Regions from separate parts of the Homo sapiens genome. Here region 2 is linked to region 1. The links come from fine-mapping of genetic effects on gene expression. A gene starts in region 1. The other region holds a variant in brackets. All regions are shown on one strand. Distances are between the middles of the regions. Region 1 holds the start of LINC00570 (long intergenic non-protein coding RNA 570). Region 2 overlaps LINC00570 (long intergenic non-protein coding RNA 570).

What was found.
Region 2: its variant is fine-mapped to the expression of LINC00570 in testis (GTEx, PIP above 0.99).

Annotation. Positions count from the first base shown.
Region 1 is chr2:11,391,190-11,396,565 of GRCh38, reverse strand. It overlaps LINC00570 (long intergenic non-protein coding RNA 570), which reads right to left and starts at 2,585. Exons shown (of 3, transcript NR_047499.1): 1 at 2,395-2,585.
Region 2 is chr2:11,398,088-11,403,463 of GRCh38, reverse strand. LINC00570 (long intergenic non-protein coding RNA 570) reads right to left here. Exons shown (of 3, transcript NR_047499.1): 2 at 3,007-3,092; 3 at 387-1,439. Among named protein-coding and RNA genes, the nearest start is that of LINC00570, 6.8 kb to the right of the region's middle. The variant A/G (reference allele first, on the strand shown) is at 3,101.

The DNA.
Region 1 (5,376 bases):
AGGTGAAAAAAATCTGAACTCATGGCAGTGGCAAGAGTTCACCTTATCACCTGACTTGGCAGACTGGTCAGGGGCCAGCCTAGAAGAATGAATGATCAGAGACCAGGAGGTCTGGGGGAGAGGCAGTTCATGGATATATGGAAATTGACATAAAGAATGGTGATCTTTGCATTATATATCAACTACCTGAAAGCGTTAGTCACGAAAGGGGCACGAAATAGCCAAGTAGGCAAAATAGCTCAGCCACGGATGTCAGCTAGCATATGCCATGAGCTATGAACTGGCAGAAGCAGAGATGACATATGGGCCCAGCAGCATGAACTCCCACTTACTAAAGCCAATCTGGCTATTGTGCACCGTGGCAGTCAGGGAGGAGTGTGGCTCAGATCTCCCTTCCAGAAGGAACTTGCTGGTCAGCGGCAAGGAGAGTAGTTAGCTGGCAGCATCCAGCTGAAGCCCCTTCACAATTCACTACAGCCCCTCCTGGGCGGCCCGGCCAGCAGTGAGCATGCTGGGAGCTTTCTATGCCCAAAGCAGGACCCCTCTGATGGGCAGTCTGCACCAGAACTGCCCATCGGGTTGACCACATTGTAAATGATCTCCAGGACAGTGTGGGGCTCTCCCTGCCCATTTTTGCCCTCGACACATTTCAGATCAGCATTGTGATCTGAAGCCTTCCCCAACCAACCCTCCTCTGTCACTTTTTATCTTTCAAAAATGTCTCTCCTCAGGAACCCTCTTGCATCCCCAATTCCATTCCTGGATCTGCTTATCAGAAGACCTGGATTGATACTCCAGGCCCAGAGACCCTTGCCAACATCAGTCATGCTACCAGGGCCCGTCAGGACCGCTGCCCACGTCCTCCCAAAGGCCGGCTCACACTGGTGTGCAACCCCAGGCCTGAGGGGCTGCCAAAATGCTGTGTACACGGGAATGGTCGATCTTAGCCATGAGCCTGGGCTATCCACACACGTGCCACAGCCCTCAGGCTGCAAAGTGCTTCCTCCTGGAGAAGGAGAACCGGCAGCCAGCCAGGGGGCAGGGCCAGCTTTCCCCACACAACACATTCCCGATGGAACCCAGGATTCTGAGAATTCTAAATTTGAATCTGGCCTTTCAAATTGTCAGGGTAGAAGGATGGGACACAGTGTATTTAACGGTTTGTTAGCGTGATTGATGACTTTCAGGAATTTATTTTAAACATATGAAAAGGGGACCTCCTTTCTAGTCTCGTCCTGGGCTATGCATTTGTTAGGAGTAGGCCTGGCCTGGAGATTCATTTATTTGGGTAAATGGGATATACTGATGCATTTCAAAATCACTTTCATCAGCTTGTTGCTAGCCATCCTGGTGGAAGAGTGGTTTCTAGAAATCCTCCTGAGGCCTGTGGTGCCCACTCACCAGGCATCATGACAGAAAGTGCAGTGCTCAAAGTCACACTGAAACAAATGCATTCTGGCTGTAAAAGGATGGGTTTGTGGGGATGAAGCAAGGCAGGGCAAGGTTGAAGGAAATGCTTCCAATCATGAATATGTAATGGCAATTGCAAGCAGAGAATTTGCTTGTCATTGATACCTAGTTGAAGCCATCAATAATAAAAAACAAATTTTGACCAACTGTGCTAAGGAAAAGACTGAATTAACTTTATAATCTCTTTATAGAAACAGAAAATACTACCACAAAACCATTGCCATAGGAAGAAGCTACTAAAATGCATGCAGCCAAAAAATGTAGGAAAAAGGTATTAGAAGCATAGAAGACAATTAATAAAATGTAGTACATTATTTTTCTAGATTTTGTGATATTTGTAGTATTTGTTCAGTTTTTCTTTTTTCTTTTTTCTTGAGACAGGATCTCACTCTGTTACTCAGGCTGGAGCACAGTGGCGTGATCACAGCTCACTGCAGCCTCAACCTCTCAAGCTCAGGTGATCCTCGCACCTCAGCCTCCTGAGTAGCTGGGACTACAGGCGTGTGCTACCACGCCTGGCTAATTTTTGCATTTTTTATAGAGGTGGAGTTTCACCACGTTGCCCAGGCTGGTCTGGAATTCCTGGACTCAAGTGATCTGCCCGTCTCCACCTCCTGAAGTGTTGGGATTATAGGCATGAGCCACTGTGCCTGGCCCAGTTTTTCTTTTTAATTGTAATTTGTTGTGATTTTTTTCTCCTAAGTAAATATCCCCTTTTATATTTGATGTGTTTGTAAATTTGTATTCTTCTTTCTTAAAAAGGACCCTCCACACTGAATAAGCTTCAGGCCCCACAACACCCAGATCCACTCCTGAATGAATATTATTATTACTAGTCAAAGTATTATTTTATCACATCCATGAGGGAGATAGAATTGCCTCTGTTTTACAGAAAAGTAAAGGCCAGGAGATGAAGTTGCTTACTCATTCTGACTCTGAATGCTTTTCCCGCTAGATTCTGGAATCTTCAGGCTTCTTGGCGCTCAGCCTGTTCGTTGATCCCCCTGCTGCTTCTACCACCCAGATCCCAGCAGGGAAAGCCAGAGGGAGACTAAATAGGAAGAAGAAGCCTCTCTGAATAAGCTGAGAAGGTTCCATAACGTCCCACTCTTCCGCAGCCCGTGGTCAGGGAGCTGGGGTGGGGGTGGGAGTGGCCGCACAGAAACCAAAAACCAACTGGCCCAAACAACCAGCTTTTGCAGGAAGGCAGAACAGGCAGTTAGGGGCTCCGGATCCCAGGCCAGGACCCTCGGACCTCAGTTAACGGCTAGTGTAGCTGAAGCCTGACGTCACCAACAGAGACAAGGAGGAGAGTAGGGAAGGATTACATATCTGTGGTTCTGATTTCCTGAAATAGTCCAGCCCTGCATGAAAGGTCTCTGTGCAGAGTCGGAGTCTAATCCAAGTTCAGGATGGCCACTAAGGGCACCTGATTTATCACTTATCTTTAGCCATGGGCCATGAACATTCCTTTGCTAATCAAGGCTGTTAACAACCCCAAAAGCGTTGCGTCTTAGAGCAGAAAGAATCCCAAGATCACTGAATCCAGGGATTCTTAGGTCCACCCTGAAGAAACAGAGAATCAATGAGTGACACTTCCAAAAGCTCAATGCATGCAATTTAAACTATCATTTTGGCCAAGATATATATTTTTCTGTTGTTAAAATGTCTTCAGTGAAATGATGGAAATAATGGTGGTGATATTTGCTAGTATTTATTGAGTGTTGCCATGTTCTGGGCATTGTGTTAAAAAGCCTTGCACAGTGTATCTCAATCACCATAAGAACCTTAAGAGAAAGACACAATTTTGGTTTTTTTTGAGACAGAGTCTCTGTCACCCAGGCTGAAGTGCAGTTGCGGGATCTTGGCTCACTGCAACCTCCGCCTCCTGGGTTCAAGTGATTCTCCTGCCTCAGCCTCCCAAGTAGCTGGGACTACAGGCACACACCACCATGCCCGGCTAATTTGTTTATTTATTTATTTATTTATTTTCTGGAATGGAGTCTTGCTCTGTCACCCAGGCTGGAGTGCAGTGGCGTGATCTTGGCTCACTGCAGCCTCCGCCTCTCGGGTTTAAGTGATTCTCCTGCCTCAGCCTCCTGTGTAGCTGGGATTACAGGAACCCACCAGCACACCCAGCTAATTTTTGTATTTTTTGGTAGAGACAGGGTTTCGCCATGTTGGCCAGGCTGGTCTCGAACTCCTGACCTCGTGATCTGCCCACCTCAGCCTCCCAAAGTGCTGGGATTACAGGCATGAGCCACTGCGCCTGGCCTAATTATTAACCCACTTTTTCTTCTGAATAAACTAAGGCTAGGGGAGATCAAACTGGTACAAGTCACACAGCAGCATGTCACAGAGTTGGGACCTGAACTCGGCAGGTCTGATTTCCTTGTGCCCGCTCTTAACTGTCACATCGCCCTGCCTCTGTAGATTAAATGCAGTTTTCAATTCTGACATCCTGATCTCCCCAAGTAAAAGTGTGGTGGCCGGGTGTTGCAGCTCATGCCTGTAATCCCAGCATTTTGGGAGGTTGAGGCAGGCAGATGGCTTGAGCTCAGGAGTTCGAGACCAGCCTGGGCAACAGTCTGTGAATCCCTGTCTCTACAAAAAATACAAAAATTAGTTGGGCATAGTGGCATGTGCCTATAGTCCCAGCTCCTCAGGAGGCTGAGGTGAGAGGATGGCTTGAACCTCAGAGGCGGAGGCTGCAGTGAGCCAAGAATGTGCCACTGCACTCCAGCCTGGGTGACAGAGCAAGACTCTGTCTTAAAAAAATAGAAATTTAAAAAGTGTGGCAACCCTGGGTTGGAACCTTGTGTTTTCTTAAAGAACTTATCCTGGCCTAGAAGTCTGGAGGCCTGAATGCCATTGGTGTAACTTGTCAGATTCATCTGACACTTGCTTGGGGAGATGTACTTGAGTTACCCAATGTCATCCAGCAAGTTGGAAGCAAAATTAGACAGGGAAAAGACCTGGCCGAGTAGAATTTCAGCATCTGTGAGATATGAAAATTTGGGAATTTCCTTTGGTTTGGACAATGGCTGACTACAGGAAAGGCAACCTCTAGAAATAAATTCAGAAAACAATTCTTTCAACCTATGTTTCCCCAGGGACATCCCGGCTTCGACAATGTACTTCTGTGCAGCTCCAGGAATGCCTCTGCATTCCTCAGCAGAGTGGGAATTTCCAGTCCTGGTTCCTGGAGGCGCGTTCTCACCTCTCCCTGCTGTACTGCCTCCCACTCAGGAACTTCTTTCCCGTTGGCTGTCTCCATGGTGAAACCAAGGGAAAGAGAGAGTTTAGATGGTTGCCATGGCAACAACAAAGGCGCTGTGGTTTCCTTGGTGATACCGGGAAGGTAGAGGCGGCAGGGCTCCAGGGATCTGTTCCCCACACCAGTTACCCTGCCTAGCTCACATCCTGGGCTGCCTGGATTAGGACCATGCATGACAATAATAGCAAAACCTTCCAGATGACAGACACTCTCAGGGCCAGTGAGGCAGTGCTCTGTTCGGACTGTGGGTCCAGGCACACTCGGTCTGGGGCATGTTATTTCACCCTTCAGGCTCTGTTGCCTCATCTGTAAAATGGGGCTAATCATAGGATCAACTCGTTAGGGTTATGAGGAAAGGAAATGTGAAGTGCTTAGCTTGTGGTGAGTGGGAGTCAATTTGAACCATGATGATTACATGGTAACTATTGCTATTACAGACTAATAACCCGTGTCAGTACAGTGCAGAGAGGGAGGCAAGGCAGGTTAATAAAGCCATCTTGGGCCAGGCGTGGTGGCTCACACCTGTAATCCCAGCACTTTGGGAGGCCGAGGCGGATGGATCGCCTGAGGTCGGGAGTTCGAGACCAGCCTGGCCAACATGGCAAAACCCTGTCTCTACTAAAAATACA
Region 2 (5,376 bases), 6.9 kb before region 1:
TTGCGGCACTGCACTCCAGCCTGGGCGGCAGAGTGAGACTCCCTCTCAACAAAAAAAAAGAAAAAAAGAAATGAAGCATTTGGCTTCACGCAGTGGCTCATGCCTGTAATCCTGGCACTTTGGGAGGCCAAAGTGGGTGGATCATTTGAGGTCAGGAGTTTGAGACCAGCTTGACCAACATGGTAAAACCCCGTCTCTACTGAAAATACAAAATTAGCGGGGCATGGTGGCCGCACACCTGTAATCCTAGCTACTCGGGAGGCTGAGGCAGGATCACCTCTTGAACCCGGGAGCGGAGTTTGCAGTGAGCTGAGATGGTGCCATTGCACTACAGCCTGGGCAACAAGAGTGAAACTCCATCTCAAAAAAAAGAAATGAAGCAATTATAGTTTTTTTAAGTATATAATTTAATTTCCAAATGGAGCCTCCATTCTGCTAGGTGGCAGAAATTTTATGTCAGCTCATGGTTTCTTCAGCCAGTTCTGGATCCCAGCACAGCCCAACTCCTTGAAAACGTCTTCCAGGAGCTTTGTGTGTGTCCATGTGGCTTCCCAAGTACCCAGTCACCAGCTGCTTCTATCCATGGGTGCACACTGACATCTCTCAAGGCATCCTTCTTCCCATCTGGTCTCTTGTCATTGGATCAAATTAATGAGTGCCTGTCCCAACTATGTGATCTCTCTAGGTCCTATTCTCTTTCAACCCTCTAGGGAACTCAGGAAACATTGGGCTATTGTCCATAATGTGGTGATGGTGGTGGTGATGGTGGTGGTGGTGGCGGTGATGGCAGCGGCAGTGGTGATGGCGATGGCGGCAGCGGCGGTGGTGGTGGTGGTGTCACCCGAGGCTGCCTTGGTCCAGCCAGCACGCAGCCTTCTCTATTCATTCTCTCTTGTGTGGACCCGTGGGGGAATTCTATGAGTCTTGCCACTTCAGGGCTCCACTCAGAAGGCAAGGTGAAGTCTTCTTTGGAGCCAGATTCCCAAATGGATCTGGAGTCTCCATTACACACAACCCCCTAGGGGTTTGACCCAGAATCCTCCTCTCAGGGTCATGTGACAATATCTACCCAACCCTCTTGCTTCTTCTCTCCTCCCTCTTGACTCTTTTCCCACCCGCCTCCTGCCATTGACTCCAGCCTATAGAATCTTTAAACAATCACTGGCGTATTGAAAGAATGGCTCTGGGTAATTAGGCATATTTCTGTTTCCAAATCTACTGTTTATGCATAAGCTTTATTCTCCAAGGCTTGCAAGAATAGGATTTTAAAGTTGAAAGGCCTAGATTTTTGCAACCTAAAGCTTTTTCTTTAAAAAATATTTTTTTTTCTTATGTCTGACATGAGAAAATTAGGAGCTCAAAAATTGAGAGTCGCCATCTTGGTTGTCTGCCTTCTCTGGTGGCATCCCTTTCCTGGGGTAGTAAGCCTCAGCTGCCACCTGAAAAAGAAGGATCTCAAATTACAGGAACTACCCAATATGAAAACCATAGCAATAGTTAATGCAGAAATGGAATCATCACGAAGATAATGCAGCTTAAATTTCAGGCCTCCCTTGGAAGAGCTGCTTCCCCAACCTTGGGAGGACTCAAGCAATAGATTAACATGGTTTTTTTTGTTGTTATTGTTGTTTTGGGTTTTTTTTTTTTTTTTTTTTTTTTGAGACAGAGTCTCACTCTGTTTCCCAGGCTGGAGTGGAGTGGCACAATCTCGGCTCACTGCAAGCTCTGCCTCCCGGGTTCATGCCATTCTCCTGCCTCAGCCTCCTGAGTAGCTGGGACTACAGGCACCCACCACCACGCCCGGCTAATTTTTTGTATTTTTAGTAGAGACAGGGTTTCACCGTGTTAGCTAGGATGGTCTCGATCTCCTGACCTCGTGATCCGCCCGCCTGGGCCTCCCAAAGTACTGGGATTACAGGCGTGAGCCACCGTGCCCGGCGCAGCATGTTTTTAAAAAATATGCAAAAATCAAGATATAATATTTTAACAATTCCTGAAGCCCACATCTCCCACTCAGACTTCGTTTCCACCACACATCTGCTTGTATTGGGTGGTGATGCGGCTCTTTGGGGCTTTAGCCGAAGGGAAGTCGAACTGGGTCTACACAGTAACATCCTCAGCCTGGACTAGGGCAGTGCACACCCTCTACTTTCAGAAGCTCCTCTCTTGTCCTTCTCTAGCTGCATTTCTACCCTAAGGGCAAGGAGTCTACAGGGCCAAAGGGAGCTTCACCCTCTTCCAGGCTACTCCTCAGGTGCGGCAGCCATGGGAATCTGCCTCTCAGAGCTTCCTTGAAGAAGAGCATGAGGGACTGGGTGCAGTGTCTCACGCCTGTAATCCCAGCACTCTGGGAGGCTGAGGTGGGCAGATCATAAGGTCAAGAGATCGAGACCAGCCTGGCCAACATGGTGAAACCCCATCTCTACTAAAAATACAAAAATTACCTGGGCCTGGTGGTGCACACCTGCAGTCCCAGCTACTTGGGAGGCTGAGGCAGGAGAATCACTTGAAGCCGGGAGGCAGAGGTTGCAGTGAGTCGAGATTGCGCCACTGCACTCCAGCCTGGCAACAGAGAGAGACTCTGTCTCAAAAAAAAAAAAAAAAAAAAAAAAAAAAACCACAGGAAAAAAAAAAAGAAGAGCATGCTGTCAGCAGCAAGGGCTGCAGTTAGCTGAGACCTCCAGCTAGAACAGCATCAGGATCTGCCACACTGTCTGAGTCAAGGCCACACTTCCACCAGGCAGCCTTCAGCTAAAGAGGGACCACAGCAGGAATCCTAGTGGCTGGCCAGCTCTGCCAGTGGGAGAGCCTTCTCATGGGCAGTCTTTCACTATAGCTCCCTATTGGGTTGGACCAGGTTTCATCAGATGGCATCTCACTCTGAGCCTCTACCTGCTTACTCTGCTCCTTCTCTAGTTCCTTTCACAGGTTCAGATTGGCATTGGGATATGAAGTCTTTTTCTGCCCAATCCTGCTTCATCCTCCTATCACGTTAACAAGGCTTACCTCTTACTCAGTCTCCAGCACTCCTAACTGACTCCATTTCTTCTACCCAGAGGACCTGACCTGACACCATCGATGCTGGAAGTGGCCTGAGAAA[A/G]CAATAAAGAGAGGGCGTGGCACCTTGATCAGCTAGCATGAGGGCTCCATCCCAGGTGGTCTGGGAGGCACAGAGGGGTGCCTAGGATGACACAGCAACCCAATTGCTATGCTTTCAGTGATGCTGACTTGGGAAATTGCTCTGATGGGAAGACCCAGGTGGCGGATGCCCCTGATGACTTTGGTTCCCAAGACCCCTCTGAGCCCTCAGTGCTGGCAGGGATTGCCACTTCTCTCAAGAGTCAGCCCTTTCCCCACCCTGTAGAGGTCTCTCCCCTACACGATAGCAGGGCCCCCCTCAGGATCTGCCCCCATCTCCTTTCCTGGCTGCAAAGCCAATAAGTAGGATTAAATGGCAGCATAACCCAGCTGGGGACAGGCTAGGCTTGATAAGGGAGGAAAGCAAGAGCCCCCAAAGGTGCTGCAAGAGTGGACTGCCATAGACCAGTGGGCGCTAAGGGGGGTCCAGGCAGGGAGGGTGTTGATCAGGGTGGGGCTTAAGACCAGGTTTATTAGTTCATTCTCATACTTCTATAAAGAACTACCTGAGACTGGGTAATTTATAAAGAAAAGAGGTTTAATTGGCTCACGGTTCTGCAGGCTGAACAGGAAGCATAGCAGCTTCTTCTCAGCTTCTGGGGAGGCTCCAGAAAACTTACAATCTTGTGGTGGAGGAAGGGGACACGGGCACGTCTTACATGCCAGAGCAGGAGGAAGAGAGAGAGAGGGGGAGGAGGTGCTACACACTTTTAGACAACCAGATCTTGTGAGAACTCTATCATGAGAGCCGCACTGGGGAGACGGTGCTAACGCATTCATGAGAACCTGCCCCCATGATCCAATCGCCTCCCACCAGGCTCCTCCGCCAACATTGAGGATTACAGTTTGACATGAGATGTGGATGGAGACACAGATCCATACAGATCCAAACGGTATCATTCCACCCCGGCCGCTCCCAAATCTCATGTCCTTCTCACATTGCAAAATCCAATCATGCCTTCTCAACTGTTCCTTCCCCAAAGTCTTAACTCATTCCAGCATTAGCTCAAAAGTCCACAGTCCAAAGTCTCATCTGAGACAAGGCTAGTTAGTCCCTTCCACCTATGAACCTGTAAAATCAAAAACAATTAGTTACTTCCAACGTACCATGGGGGTACAGGCATTGGGTAAATACTCCCGTTCCAAAAGGGAGAAACCGGCCGAAAGAAAGGCTGCAGGCTCCACTCAAGTCTGAAACCCAGCAGGGTGCCATTACGTCTTAAAGCTCCAAAATAATCTCCTTGATTCCACGTCTCACATCCAGGGCACAGTGATGCAAGAGGTGGGCTCCCAAAGCCTTGGGCAGCTCTGCCTCTGGGGCTCTGCAGGGCTCAACCCCTGCGGCTGCTTATAGGCTGGCGTGGTGCCCTGAAGCAGGAGAGGCACATGGTAAGTGCTTAATCGCCGGGAGCCAGAAGGTCACACCCATTGTAACAACTGGCAAGGCTGGAGTGGCAGCCAACAGGGCTTGACTTCCAGAGTGAAGGAGATGTTGACAGAATACAGCAATGCTAGTGAGGGGCGGCCCATACGTGGACTGCTGTGTGTGTGTGTGTGTGTGTGTGTGTATTTACGTGTGTATATATAAACTGGACTGGAGTTAGCTTTTTGAAAAATATGACTTTTTAGTTTACTCAATGTCATTTTATTTATTTGTTTTTTTTGAGACGGGCTCTCACTACATTGCCCAGGTTGGTTTCGATCTCCTGGGCTCAAACGAGTCTCCCAACTCAGCCTGCCGAGTAGCTGGGATTACAGGCATGAGACACAGCCCCTGACTGGAGTCGGTTTCCAGAACGGAGAACTATTGACTGAAGAGGTGGCTGGGTACCCAGGAGAAAGAATCCTGTGACATGACAGTTTTTAAAGTAGAGATTTCAGATAAACAACAGGACCTATGACCATTTACTAGAGTGACTTTTTGCTGGGGAAAGAGGGTTGCTCAGCTATTTGAAGGACTATCTGAAGATCTGAATTGACATTGACATCCAGAGATCCGAAGACTCCTCCTAGCCCATCTCTTAGAGTAGGGCCGTGCAAAAAGCCAGGGAAGAAAGCGAGTGCTGGCTGAAGTCCAGCTGAGAGTGGGTCCACTGGCTCCGTGGATCCATCCTAAGGTCATTTTCTCAGTCCCTGAACGTATAATTGGCATTGGAAAAACTCGCACATTGGGTTTTTGGCCTGTAGAGTAAAAGCTGTCATACTGGGGAAAGCCAAGTGAAAACTCTTGATACTACT